Regions from separate parts of the Homo sapiens genome. Here all the other regions are reported to be linked to region 3. Evidence: microRNA targets listed by miRTarBase, many of them from high-throughput screens and not tested one by one. Region 3 holds a microRNA gene; each other region holds the end of a gene's coding sequence. Distances are from middle to middle.
Evidence for each region. The annotated mature microRNA hsa-miR-5584-5p reads CAGGGAAAUGGGAAGAACUAGA and lies in region 3 at 2,056-2,077, opposite strand. An mRNA with a match to its seed (bases 2 to 7 or 8) in the 3' UTR can be bound and repressed. Matches are read on the target gene's strand: a 7mer-m8 pairs with bases 2 to 8, a 7mer-A1 pairs with bases 2 to 7 and ends in A, and an 8mer does both.

Region 1: miRTarBase lists UCHL5 as a target of hsa-miR-5584-5p. Seed matches in the 3' UTR shown: 7mer-A1 at 3,472-3,478.
Region 2: miRTarBase lists PHF12 as a target of hsa-miR-5584-5p. Seed matches in the 3' UTR shown: 7mer-m8 at 3,147-3,153.

Annotation. Positions count from the first base shown.
Region 1 is chr1:193,012,717-193,017,003 of GRCh38, forward strand. It overlaps UCHL5 (ubiquitin C-terminal hydrolase L5), which reads right to left. Exons shown (of 11, transcript NM_001199261.3): 11 at 1-3,679. The coding sequence ends at 3,635. Among named protein-coding and RNA genes, the nearest start is that of UCHL5, 44 kb to the right of the region's middle.
Region 2 is chr17:28,902,515-28,906,514 of GRCh38, forward strand. PHF12 (PHD finger protein 12) reads right to left here. Exons shown (of 15, transcript NM_001033561.2): 15 at 2,736-4,000. The coding sequence ends at 3,669. It overlaps DHRS13 (dehydrogenase/reductase 13), which reads right to left and starts at 565. Exons shown (of 5, transcript NM_144683.4): 1 at 304-565; 2 at 69-187. The coding sequence starts at 430. RefSeq lists a silencer at 158-787 and an enhancer at 3,332-3,832.
Region 3 is chr1:44,543,223-44,547,569 of GRCh38, reverse strand. MIR5584 (microRNA 5584) reads right to left here and starts at 2,077; the gene lies at 2,018-2,077. All of the region lies in intron 2 of RNF220 (ring finger protein 220), which reads right to left. RefSeq lists an enhancer at 1,334-1,860.

The sequences.
Region 1 (4,287 bases), 150 Mb from region 3:
TCATACTACTATTTGAAAAGTTGTATTACATACTTATTATCTGTCTCACCATGAGAGCAGGGGCTTTTTCCTGTTATACTATCCTCTAGCATCTAGAACAACTCAGATGTACCTCATAAGATTGGCTGAATAAATCACTGAATAGTTTTCAAAAAGTTAATGTAATCAAGTCAAAAATAAAAAGTGCCCAGTATGCTAGAAGTGGTGAATCTTTACCATGTCAGTCATTGGATTTAGGCCAGTTAACAATATACTAAAGAACAAACTAAATAACATGCATGTTTGACTGATCTAGGAATTCATACTACTCTAAAAAACGCAGTATCATTCTAAAAATATAACTATCCAGTTTGTCTGTTTTAGGCATTTAGGCATAGAAGGTTTAACTTTTCTGCATTCCAGTGCACAGTCATTAAGTGTTACAGCAGGTTCCTCATTCCTTGAACACAACTACTGCAACATGTTCTAACATTAATAGTTCCAACAGTGAACTCCCTGACTGTTGCAAAAGTGAGCAGTTCCCTAGGTACACCAATACTGTATGTTTGGATGGGAGTAATCTCTGGAGACTTAAGCTTGAAACCGCTCCTCCAAACCTTCCAATGATTTTGTAAGAAACTATGTAGTTTCAAAACTCCCAATATAAATCTGCATTCCTCTTCAAATAGCTAGAGTGGTTTGTTTCCTGAAAATTTGTATATGATCAAGTTTAAAAATAATATAAACTTCATAGAACTATTTCAGACTATGGGGAGGGCAAGCAAGACTAACACACAAAAACATATGTGTACACATGAGGAAAAAGGATCACTAAATACATAAAATGTTAATGTGCTCATCCCTGTAAATAGAAATATGGTAATTTAAATTTTATTTTTACTTATCTGTTTTCTCTAAATGGTTTTTGAGGAGAATACATTAAAAGCCCTTTTTTTCCCTCAAATAAACAAAATCCTCCTACAGGATAAAAATATCTAAATGCATCTTGAAATGTTAACGTTACAGGCAACTAGGAGGATTAATTGAAAGTATTAATCTGCATGTAACACCATAATATACACACAAATATGTACCATGGTCCTAACTGGGGGAGCAAGTCCCCGTGGTTGTGATTCCCGAGCAAATATTTGTCTGTTTTAGTGGCACAGTCGAGCTGACTGCTGTTCGGAAAAGGGCAAGCTATCTTGGGAACTAAACATATAAGGTGAGAGTAGCCAGTGCCGCAGCTGTTGGCAAGGTTTTTGTTGATAATAACAGAAGTACATCCCTTAGAATTGGCTATTTTGAAGGCTTAAAATAGAATGGAAGCGACTTCACCTACCCAATAATTAAATAAAATTTTAGAAAAGACTAAATATGAAATGAGCAAGATTTTCTATAAAATATCATTTAAAAAAAACTTTCCAAATAGCATTTATCTATTTATGGGTTGCTCTTTATTCTTCCATTTTCTCTACCCTCTAGCTTCATGACTTAATTTCAAACCAGCAACATATAGCACCCAGACAAGTCACACTTCTTTATTCACAGACAGAAGTAATCATGAAGTATCACAAGGGATTTGCAATCACCAAAGAAGATGCAGATAAAATAAACCACTCTTAAGCTATGGAAATTCCTATTAAGGAATTTTATTAGATTAATAAGAAAAATCCTTATACCTATTAATATAGTCATTTTACAAGGATATTTTTCAAATGTCATTTGATATTACTTTTGTTAACACTTTCAATGACAATTCTGATGAGCTCTAATTTTGGATCTTTTATGGTTACTGCTTTCTGTGACCTAAGAAACCTTTGGCTAACCCCCCAAGTCACAAAAATATCATCTGTTTTCAGTTAAAAAGCTTCATACTTTTAAAATATTACATTTAGGTCTATGATTCATCTCAAAGTCATTTTTGTGAGGTAGGGGGTCATTGTTCACTTTTTTCTATATGGATATTCAGCTATTCTATTCTGGCTCCATTTGTTGAAAAGACTTTCCTTCTCTGTTGAATTGTTTTGCCACCTTTGTCGAAATCAAGTGATCATATAAACGTTGATCTGTTTTCAGGCTCTCTCTTCTGTTCCATTGCTTTATTTGTCAATCCTAGTGCCAGTATCACACTGTATTGATTACTAAATACAACTTACCACAATAATCCTCACATTGCTTAACAAAATTTAAGCCTCAATAGGAAAGAATATATAAATTAAGCTGAAATAAACGAATGAGATCAAGATGAGCCTTCCTTAAAAATCTATTTTTAAAAATTATATCATGGCTTTGAAAACACTCCATAATTATTACTGTATCAACAGCAAAACATATTTACCCACAAATAACTGAGAGACTACATATTTTCCATTACCTCCAACTGAAATTATGTATGAAAAATATTTCATTCGTTTTTCTATCAATTTCCTATCAGGTTTTTCTCCATTAGTTCTAAGTCATTTAATACCACAATTACTAAGCTTAAAAACAATCCTTAAAAATGTGCTGAAGCTGGAAGATGGGTACACATTCTCCCTAATAAAATAAATTATGCTAAATTGATTTTACAATAAATAATAAAATGTTAAAGTCATGTATCAACCTCAGAAATATTCTTGATAAAGAAAAAAGTAGGTTACTTCCTTTAAAAAAGAAAGCTTTATAAAGTCTTCTTTAAAGTCTGACTTGCAAAGGAAGATTAGAAGCAGAAGATTATTACAAAGCAACTCCCAAATCAATTTTTAAAAATCAATTGTGAGCAAATTACATATGGCTCTTGAAAACTGCAGGCTGTACGAAATTTATTCAAATTGGCATAGAAAGACCCCCATCACCACTACCATCTTTTTAAAAAAGCAGATAACATGAACTGTCAGACCTCCAGTTTTTTTATACACAGCTTACAAGCTTGAAACAATATTCCATTGAGAGTAACACCAACATTCTTTAAGATTTACAATTTCTTCTTAACCTGAAATTTTGCTTTGAAGCATAATACTCAGACCTTCCTGAAACAATTCTCTAATACATAAACAAATAACCCCAAACACTTGAAGAAAATTTACTAAAATAAAATTGAGATGTTTATTACTTTTCTACTGACAGCAGTGAAAATCACTGGAAATTATACTTTTGTCCTTTTTAAATGATTTACATTAAAATCATACTTTCTCAAATAACTGGTATAGCAGATAAAATTCAGTTTTAAAATCCTCAAAACACTTAGATATCAAAGATAGAAATACTGATTTTTTTTCCGTTAATGATGAGAAGAAATAAGACAACCAGTTTAATCAAGATCTGACAATTGCAAATTTTAAGTATTTAAATTACAGATAAGGAATATCGTTTGTGCATTTTCTAGCTTCATATGGTAGTTAGACAACCAGAAAACTAACAGTTGTCAGACTCAATGTCAAATAATGGAATTTGGGAAAGCATTCTTAATATCACTTTCATTTAATATGCACTACATGCACATGATGCAGGTAGGGAAGAAGTTTATGAATCCATGCATTAAAGACAAGACAGGCTGGCACTATTGCCAAACGTGCACTGAGCCAATTAGGATGTTGCTCTAAGTTCTTTATACATAATGGTTTCCATGAAAATATGTGCAGAAGCAGAAATGTGTACATATCTGAAAACATCTTCATTTGGTTTCCTGAGCTTTCTTTGCGTTCTGTTTTTCTTTTGCCTAAAAATTAAAAATAGTATGTTACAAAATTTTAAAAGTCAGTTTTAGACTATATTAGAATAAAATGTGCCTAAGAGGGTATTCTCAAGCTGAAAGGCTTGAAATACATTGTTTATAAGACTTCTAAAGCATTATGTTTTATAACTTGAGACTTATAACAAACTTTTCCTGGACAATTACATAGTTATTCTTTGCCCTAAGAAAGGATCATGTTTGGTTTGCAGTTCTTTCCTATCTGAAGGTGAAATGAATTATTATAATTGTAATAATTTAAAAATTCCATAAAGTCAAACTCATTCATGAGTATTCCAAAACAATATATATACACATATTTGCCCATTTCCTATTCACATGAGCATAAGAAAAATCTTACATTAGTTTCTGCAAATGTGAATAAATGAGTTTAACATAACAGTTTAAGTGACTTTAACATAATGTCACTAAAGGATTATGTATCCTTGGTGTCAACAAACTTTATTTATATGACCTAAAAAAAAATGTTTTTACATACTAGTTCAATAGATCTTCATTACAATTATATAGCTTGAACACAGTACTTGTTTTATTCTTTAGCAAATGAAAAAGCCAGAGCTTATAGATGTTATCAA
Region 2 (4,000 bases), not on the chromosome of region 3:
TTTGCTGGCTTCTCTGTGTCCCGGCGGGTTCTCGGCTCACCGTCCCACGCGCCCCCGCTGCCTCTCACCTGGCGGAGGTCGAAGGCAGCCGCCTCCCCGCGCTCCTGGCTGCGGCAGGCCAGCACCACGCGCGCTCCCCGGCGCGCCAGCTCCAGCGCCGTCATCTTTCCGATGCCGCTGTTGGCGCCTGCGGACCGCGGGCGGGAGCCGAGCTGAGCTGAGCCCGGCGGGCCGCTGCTACCGCCGGCCCGGCCTCCTCTCCGCGCGCCCCGCCAGCTCGCACTCACCCGCCTCCGCACTCACCCGTGACCACGGCCGTGCGGCCCCGCAGGTTGCCCATGCCGCCGCACGGCGGGGCCTTCACCAGGTTGTAGTAGACAAGCACGTAAGCGCCCAGCAGCAACCCCGCGCCCAGCAGCAGCGCCTCCATGCCGGCCGCGCCTCCCGGCTCCCGCCCAGGCCCCGCACCGCCCTGGATCGCCGCCAGGCGGCTGCCGATCCGCCCTGCACAGGCCTGGAACGGCGCCCGGGCGCGTCAGCCTCCGAAGGCGGAGGCGGGCAGGAGGCTGGGCAGGGGCGTGTGCGCGTGCGGGTGCGCGCCGGCCCTGCGAGCGCCCCCTAGGCGTGCGTCGGCGTCCTGGGGGCGTGTGCCTCTGTGGACACCTTTGAGGTGAGTGTGTGCGCTTGGGCCCTGGGAGCGCCCCCTAGGTGTGTGCCTGTGTGAACTCCTGGGTGTGTGTGTCCACGTACACCCTGTGAGTGCACGCTAGGTATGTGCATGCATCTGCAACGCTTGTATGTGAATGATCTCTAGGTGTGTATGTGCCCATGTCCCTGAGGATCACCCTTTGGGTTGTGTGCGTGCCTCTGGATCCTGTGTGTGAGCTCCTGTAAGCACCTTGTAGGTGTTTGTGTGCATTCTGGCAGAGTCCCTCCAGGTATGTGCCTGCATCTGTAGTCTCTGCCAGTGCATGTGCTTGCATATCTCCATATGTTTACTCGAGGTGTATGTAGCACAGTCCCTCCCTTCTGAAGTTAGGTGTGTACATGAATACACGTGTGTCTTTGAGTCTAGTCCTAGATGCTTTTCCCTCTAAGAACAAATCCTTCTCCTTCCTTCCCTTCTGCACAAATCCTTCTCCTTTCCTTCCTTTCCTTTCCTTCCTTCCTTCCTTCCTTCCTTCCTTCCCTTCCTTCCTTCCTCCCTTCCTTCCTTCCTTCCTTCCCTCCCTCCCTTCCTTCCTTCTTTCCTTTCTTTCTTTCTTTTGAGACGGAGTTTCACTCTCGTTGCCCAGGCTGGAGTGCAGTGGCGTGATCCCGGCTCACTGCAACCTCCGCTTCCCGGGTTCAAGCAATTCTCCTGCCTCAGAATCCAGAGTAGCTGGGATCACAGGTGTGTGACACCACACCCGGCTAATTTTTGTATTTTAGTAGAGAAGGGTTTTCACTATGTTGGCCAGGTTGGTCTCAAACTTCTGACCTTAAGTGACCCACCTGCCTCAGCCTCTCAAAGTGCTGGGATTACAGGTGTGAGCCTCTGCACTGGGCCAAATCCTTCGTTTTCTTATCTTCACATCCAGCCCCCAGCTTCTAGGATTCTTCCGTGTTCTCCCCACACAGGCTAGAGAGGACACTGTTAAAGGTGGCACAGGCAGTTAAGGGGTGTCAGAATTCACTCCTTCATTCCCCCTCTGTATCTCCCTACCTCAACCCCACTAGTGCCTTCCATGGCTGAAGGGAAGCAGGAAGAGATAGAGAGTAAAATCTGTTATTGCCTTTCAGGAGGAAATTTGCCTTTGGAATGGTTCTCATAGGTGATAAGAGACAGGCAGAGAAGCTCCATCACTCAATTACAAGTGACCATGATGGCAGGAAGGGTGGGGCTGGCTAGGAACAAATGGGTAAGACCATTCCAGGGCAGAAGGCCGTTGCCTGATACATTCAGTACAATTTAGAACCTGGTATTTGGCACTTATGGTGTGCCCAGCAGTGTAGTTAGACTTGGAAATTCCGAGTGGAAGATATACAAGTTTCTGTCCTTAGGGAGTTCAAAAAGCCCATTAGGGCACCGGGAGCAGAGTGATGACGCCTGCATGGGCAGATGAAAGTCAGGGACAGACCTCAGATTCCAGGGCCAGTTTCCTATTTAGCTGCACTGCGGATTCGGGTTTCCATTGTAGATGCTGTGGGATGAGGCTGGGGGTAGAATATTCATTTTCTATCCCTAAGGCAAAATCCTGACACACAAGCAGATGCACCTACACAAACAGTGCTGGAATATACACAGAGGTGCTCTCCATCTGAGGAGGCTGACCTCAGGAAAACTTCCTGGAGAGTTTTTCACTAAGATCTGGGAGGAAAGCATGGAATTTGGTTTAATGAAGGTCCCCGGGACTTGAGAATTAAGGTAATGCAGCAGACTCGTTTTTTGATGAGGAATAGCAGTTGTAGAGAAGTGTGACTGCAGATCACATGACTAGAAGTGACAGGTCAAGACTAGATTCCACTATCAGTCAGGGTTCTCTGGAGAAACAGCTCCCCCCGGGCCAGCAGACGCACCCATGTCATTCCATTGTCATCCACCCACCCTGGCTCACTTTTCTCCAACACCTCCCCTACCAAACTTCCCTATGGGAATGAGACCTGTTCAAAAGGCCCCCCACCTGCTAGACCCAGATCTAGGGGAGGGTCTCCTCTAAGGGTGATGACAGGTAGGACAGACAGTCAGAAAACAATTTGAAGTATTTTTGTTTTTTATATACAGAATACAGGAAAGTTTCTGTAAAGTCTAAAACATTACAATTACTATGTACATTGGTACTGGTTGTGGGGGTGGGAGGAGAGGAGGGAACCAGGGGCAGGAGGAAGAGGAGAGAAGTGGCAAGAGAACAAAAAAAGGAGACAAAACAGGTTTACGACAAAAACATTTTTGCTACAATAGACAATTTGAGAAAACGCTCTACCACATGTAGTACTGTACACGGTTTTTAAAAACATTGAAAAAATGTCATCACTAGATGTATTTACACAAAATCCAAATACACTTTTCCTTATTTGAAATAAAATAGATGGACAGCCAGAAAAAGAATTCATTTCTCATTTGTCCATAATACACAGTAGCTACCTGTAGTGCAACCGCTGCAGAAAGGGAAAATAACGTGGAGGGTGGGAACCATGGAAGGAAGGTGGGTAGCGATCTTTATATTAAATAAAACAATGATATTGTATAGATTTTGCTGTATGAAAACTGTATTTTTTCTTTTAATATAAAACTATTGTCACTGCCACAAAATAGAACAAGTTTCTGATTATTTTACAATGGTGGGCGAGGGGGAGGGAGCAGGAGGTGGGTGGGGAAGGGTTTTGTGTTGGAGGAAGTGTCCAGACCCTGGGTCTTTCCCTCCCTGCCCACGCTGTTCCTCAGCTCAGGTCTGCCGCTTTCCCATGAAATGTTGAGTACAAATATATGTGCAAATGCCCCCTAGAACTTGAGAAAAGAAAAAGGATTTTTAAAAAACAGTCAAAAGGTTTTCTTCATTTCATGCAAAGATTGTAGTTGAAGGGTTTCTGGTAGAGTATAGAAAACACCCGGGCTTGGTTTGTGTACATTTTTGCATTGCAGGAGTCTTGGGTGGGTGTACAGGCCAGTGGCGGGGTAGCCGCCAGTCCTAAGGAACAGAGTTGGAGCGCAGCACAGGGCCCTGGTGGGGCTTGAGAGAGAGCTTCTCGGCCAAGACCCCATCCTGCAGCAGGCTGGCATCGCCTTTGGGCTGTTTGGTCGCAAACTCAGTGATGCTGAAGACAAACTGCAGGCAGCCCAGCTTGATGTAGCTGCCATGGTGCAGTAAGGCTGTGCCCTCCCAGCCGGCCCCACTGCCCCCAATCAAGCTCGAGCTGCTGGCTTTGCAATTGCAGGGTCTCCGCTGCGGCCCCTGGGCCTGGGAACTCATCATGGCTGCCTCCTCACTTGGCTCTTCGTCCTGTTTCTGGTGCCGGCGGC
Region 3 (4,347 bases):
GGGAAACACCTACTTTTATTTAGGGTGGCAGGAGGGCAAAGAGCCAGAGAAGGAGCTGTCTGCAAGGAGAACCAGGAGGTGGTATGAGAGATGCCGAGAGAGAAAAGTGTTTCAGGAGGGTGACCGCAGGGTTAGGCGAAGAGATGTTAAGAAGGGTGAACACCAACATGGACTTGGAGATGTGGATGAACAATCTTTAGGAGAACAGATTCACCAAAGAGGTAAGGACTGTGGCAGAAATGAGCCAGTGGAGAGAATGGAAGTGGTTAAATATAAAAAAGCCTTTGAGCAGTGAGGCAGTGAAGGGGACAGAAGCTCAAGGAGTGAGGAGGGTTTAAAGAATGTGTTTTTTAAAATGGGGAAGGCTTGGTCCAGTTGCATTTTTGTGACACACACAAGGAGACATCTTCACTTCAGCTCTGTCTCACAGGGCTGTTGGCAATGCCTTTTCCCATCCTGGGGGCTCTCGTGTCCACAGATTCCCAGGGCCTAATGTGCCAGGCACCCTGGAGGAAGCATCCCTCTCAATGTGTGACAACATGAACACCTTGGTTTTCTTCTCCCTTCTTTCTGCCCTGCTTCCTTCTCTTCCTTTGCTTATTTACTTGCTGAACCCCTCCTTAGTGTCATCTGCCTTGAGGGGTATGACTCTGGGACTGGGGCAGGTGAGAGAGGACCGCCAGGAGGCGCCTGGAGAGGCTGCTGTAGCAATGCAGTTGTCCATAGCAGGTGGGCTGGAGAGGAGAGTGGATGTGGGAGAGGGATTTGAGACTAACCAGACATGGGTGGAGGGAAATGCAGGGGCAGAGCTGGCTCAGAAGTCCCAGCTTTGGGGTGCCAGCGAGGGGTCAGGAGTGATGCCCGAGGTCTTACTTTTCAGAGCCAGAGCTCGGTGCATCAATGACTCTGAAGCAAGCACTCCATCTCGGGGTAACATGATCCTGTAACGCAGGGCTCCTCTGATGTGGTCTGCTTGCCTTTTACAGCATTAGGGGAGCAACATTTCATGGAAAATTCAATAAATCCCCCTGTACAGCCAGACGTCTGTAAACAATGGCTTCCAAATTCAATCAGGCTGGGGACCCGCAGCAGCATTTATGAGCTCTAACGTGGAATATTATATAGGGGAGTGAGTAGCAGGGGGCTGGGGGAAGGGACTTCCTGGAAGAAGAAAGCTCCTGTGTGGCTCCTGCTCTCAGATGTTGCGGTGGAGGTGATTCTCCAGGTAGAAGTCCTAGCCATGCGACCTCTTAGGCTGGGCCTGGGGGGCCACTGAGCCATGGCTCTGGGCCTGGGGAGGAGGACAGGGATCTGGCCTTCTGGTACTGGCCATGAAGAGGCTGGGTGGCCGGAAGAACCAGGACCGAGAGTGAGCTCGCCAGCTTCTCCTCCCACGTCCTGCAGCCCATGCTTACCTGGCAAGCAGTGTGAGTCATCTCGGGTGCTTATTGTCTTTGTCACACCTTCCACCTCCTTTTACAAACCTTCTACCCACTTTGGTTCTATGGTCTGGTGATGATCTTCAGAGAACTAGCCCCTTTCTCTCTCAGGTTCAGAATGCCCCTCACTCAGTTCAGAAAGGTTTGCAATGAGGTAGGAGAACATGCAAGAAAGGGTTTCTCCTCGTCTCTACTATAAATAGAAAATTAGCCGGGCGTGGTGGCGCATGCCTGTAATCCCAGCTACTCGGGAGACTGTGGCAGGAGAATTGCTTGAACCCAGGAGGTGGAGGTTGCAGTGAGCCGAGTTTGCGCCATTGCACTCCAGCCTGGGCAACAAGAGTGAGACTCCATCTCAAAAAAAAAAAAAAAATTGGGTTTCTGATGAAGAGGTTGCAGTATGCTGTTTTAGGGAGGCTCAGAGGTCTCACCCATCTTTAGGCCCCCTAGATATCTCCTCTCCTTGGCCCTGTGAACCCCTCTACACTCTGGTCAGGTCTCCTAGCCTCTGCACCCCCACCCCCACTGTTGCCCTTGCACCCTCTGCCAGGCTTTCTCCAGCAAACCACAAGGAGCATAATTGGGCAAAGGGAAGAACTAAAGGTCTGGATTCAAATCTAGTTCTTCCCATTTCCCTGTTATGGATCTTGGATTAGTCACTTCCTCCTCTGAATCTCAAGGTGGGAATAACGTGAACTGCCTTGCTGAGTGCCTGAGGATAAAATTAGATAATGGATGTAAAGTGCCTGAAAGTTAATGGCATGGAATCAGCATGAAATACACAGTAGCTTTCTTCTCCACAATTCTTCTCCTTTCAAACCTCCCTTCAATAAAGCTTCTTTTAATCCTCAGAAACTGCCCTCCCTCCAACCGAAGGTACCAGATGTCCCGTCAGCTCTTCTCTCTGTCCTGCACATCTCCGAGTTCCCTTTGTGACTGGCTCTTCTGTGAGGCCTGATTTGAATCCAACAGGAAGAGCATAGAAGATCACAATGGACCATGGCCACATGGAAGGGGTGGAGGCAACGCCGAGGTGTCCCGCTTGCCTTCCTAGAGAACTACGGCGTAAGCTCCTCAAGGGCAAGGATTTTAGCCCGCTTTGTTTGTGGCTCTATTCCCAGGGTCTAGAGCCATGCTTGACACTTGGTACATGCTCAATAAGTATTTCCTGGTTGCATTAACTCATTCAGCATCTTCTCACCATTTTCCTGTGGTTTTTCTCTGTACCCAGTGGGAGAATGGAGAGATTGCATTCCAGGACATACAACAACCCCTCCTGGAAATCAGAAATCCTCTCTTCCTTCAAAATGTCCTTGGAACACTGGTCAGGCATCCGCCGTGGAGTGGGCATGGAGCAGAATCACAGCCACAAGGCTTCTCCTTGCAGCCCACTGCTAGAAACAAACATGTCTTGGAAGGCAAAGTTCCACAAGGCTTTAGGCTAATCCATGCCCAGCCTTTGGAGATTGAAAGGATAACTTCCAGAAAGGTGAGCTAGAGATGCACTTCCCTCCTTCTCCGGAGGACAGTTCTATAGAGCCCTCAGTCAATCTTAAAACACAGGGCAACAGGGAGGAAAAGGTTGGCTAGCCCCAGAGCAATGCTGAGTGGCATTTATAAAGGATTTATCGTGTGCCAGACTCTGCACTCAGCACTTACATGCATGAACTCATTAAAACCTCGTGCTGGCTAGTACTGGTATTAGTCCCATTTTACCTATAAGGAAACTGAGGCTCAGAGAGGTTAAATAGCATGCCAAGATCACAGGGCCAAGAACAAGAGGAACAGGGTGATCCCAGGTCTGTCTGACTCCAGAGCACAAGTGACTACCCACTATAATCTACAGCCTCAGAAGACAGGGATGGAGAGCAGTCCTTGGCTCAGATGGTTCTGGGGCCCCGGCAGAGATCAAGCATTTTCCTGTCTGCTCCTGCTCTGTTCTTCTCCCACCCCCGCTCCAGTTCACAGTGGGCAACTGAGATCATTGTTTGGGAGTGGTTGTCTCCTGTGGTCCTCCCGACCTCTTGCTGGGTATTCCCTGGGGATGAGGAGGAAGATGGGACAGGGTCAGGGGAGAGCTGCTGCTCTCTGTCCCCAGCTCCACAGGCCAGTGGGATGCTCTGCTGTCCAGCTGGGACCAGTTCCGGGCAACTGGGCATAATGCAAGAGTTCTCACCCCGGGCCCAGGCTGGAGATAGGCTGCTTGCTCCACCACTCGCCACTGCCCAGTAATCCCACTCATCTGGAGGAAGGAGATTCTTTGGGATCAGAGCTGGCGTTGACCTTTTGGTTTTTCCATTTGGCAGGACGGGGGAGGGGTTCAAGAAGGCAGATCCCAGAGATATCTCCCCCCACAGCCAGATACCCAGCTTTTGGGGTTCTGGGATTGACTCCTGAAGTCGTTACATGTGAAATGCTTGCATGTATTTTTTTTTAATGCCCAAAACATGATGCAATGTTTCCTGTACACCCCGGTCACGTACTCTTGTACATGCACACACGGCTTCCACGTTGACTTCTGTGACTAGCCCCTTCCGTGCTCCGGCTTGCTTTTGCTCTCTCTACTTCCCCCTCCCTCTCTCTCTCTCATTCTCCCTGCTAGCTGCTGTAAGGATCAGTCCCCAAAGAAAAATGCCCAATTTGTCATGTCATGTCCAGCTGTTAACCTCCCGTCGGTAAGCCATGGGGAAGACTTACTTTCTCCTATTTATTTATTTGCCACTTGGACAATAGAAGGCCCCAGGCCTGCTGAGTTCTCCATAATAAAGCCACCAACGATCTCCCCCATCACCCCCTCCCCTCCCCCCAGCCCCATGTCAACAACACTAGCCAACCTGCAGGTGTCACTGGGCATTAACCCCAGGCTTAACTCTGGCTCTGCTCAACCGGAGGGAAGGGGGAGGGGGTA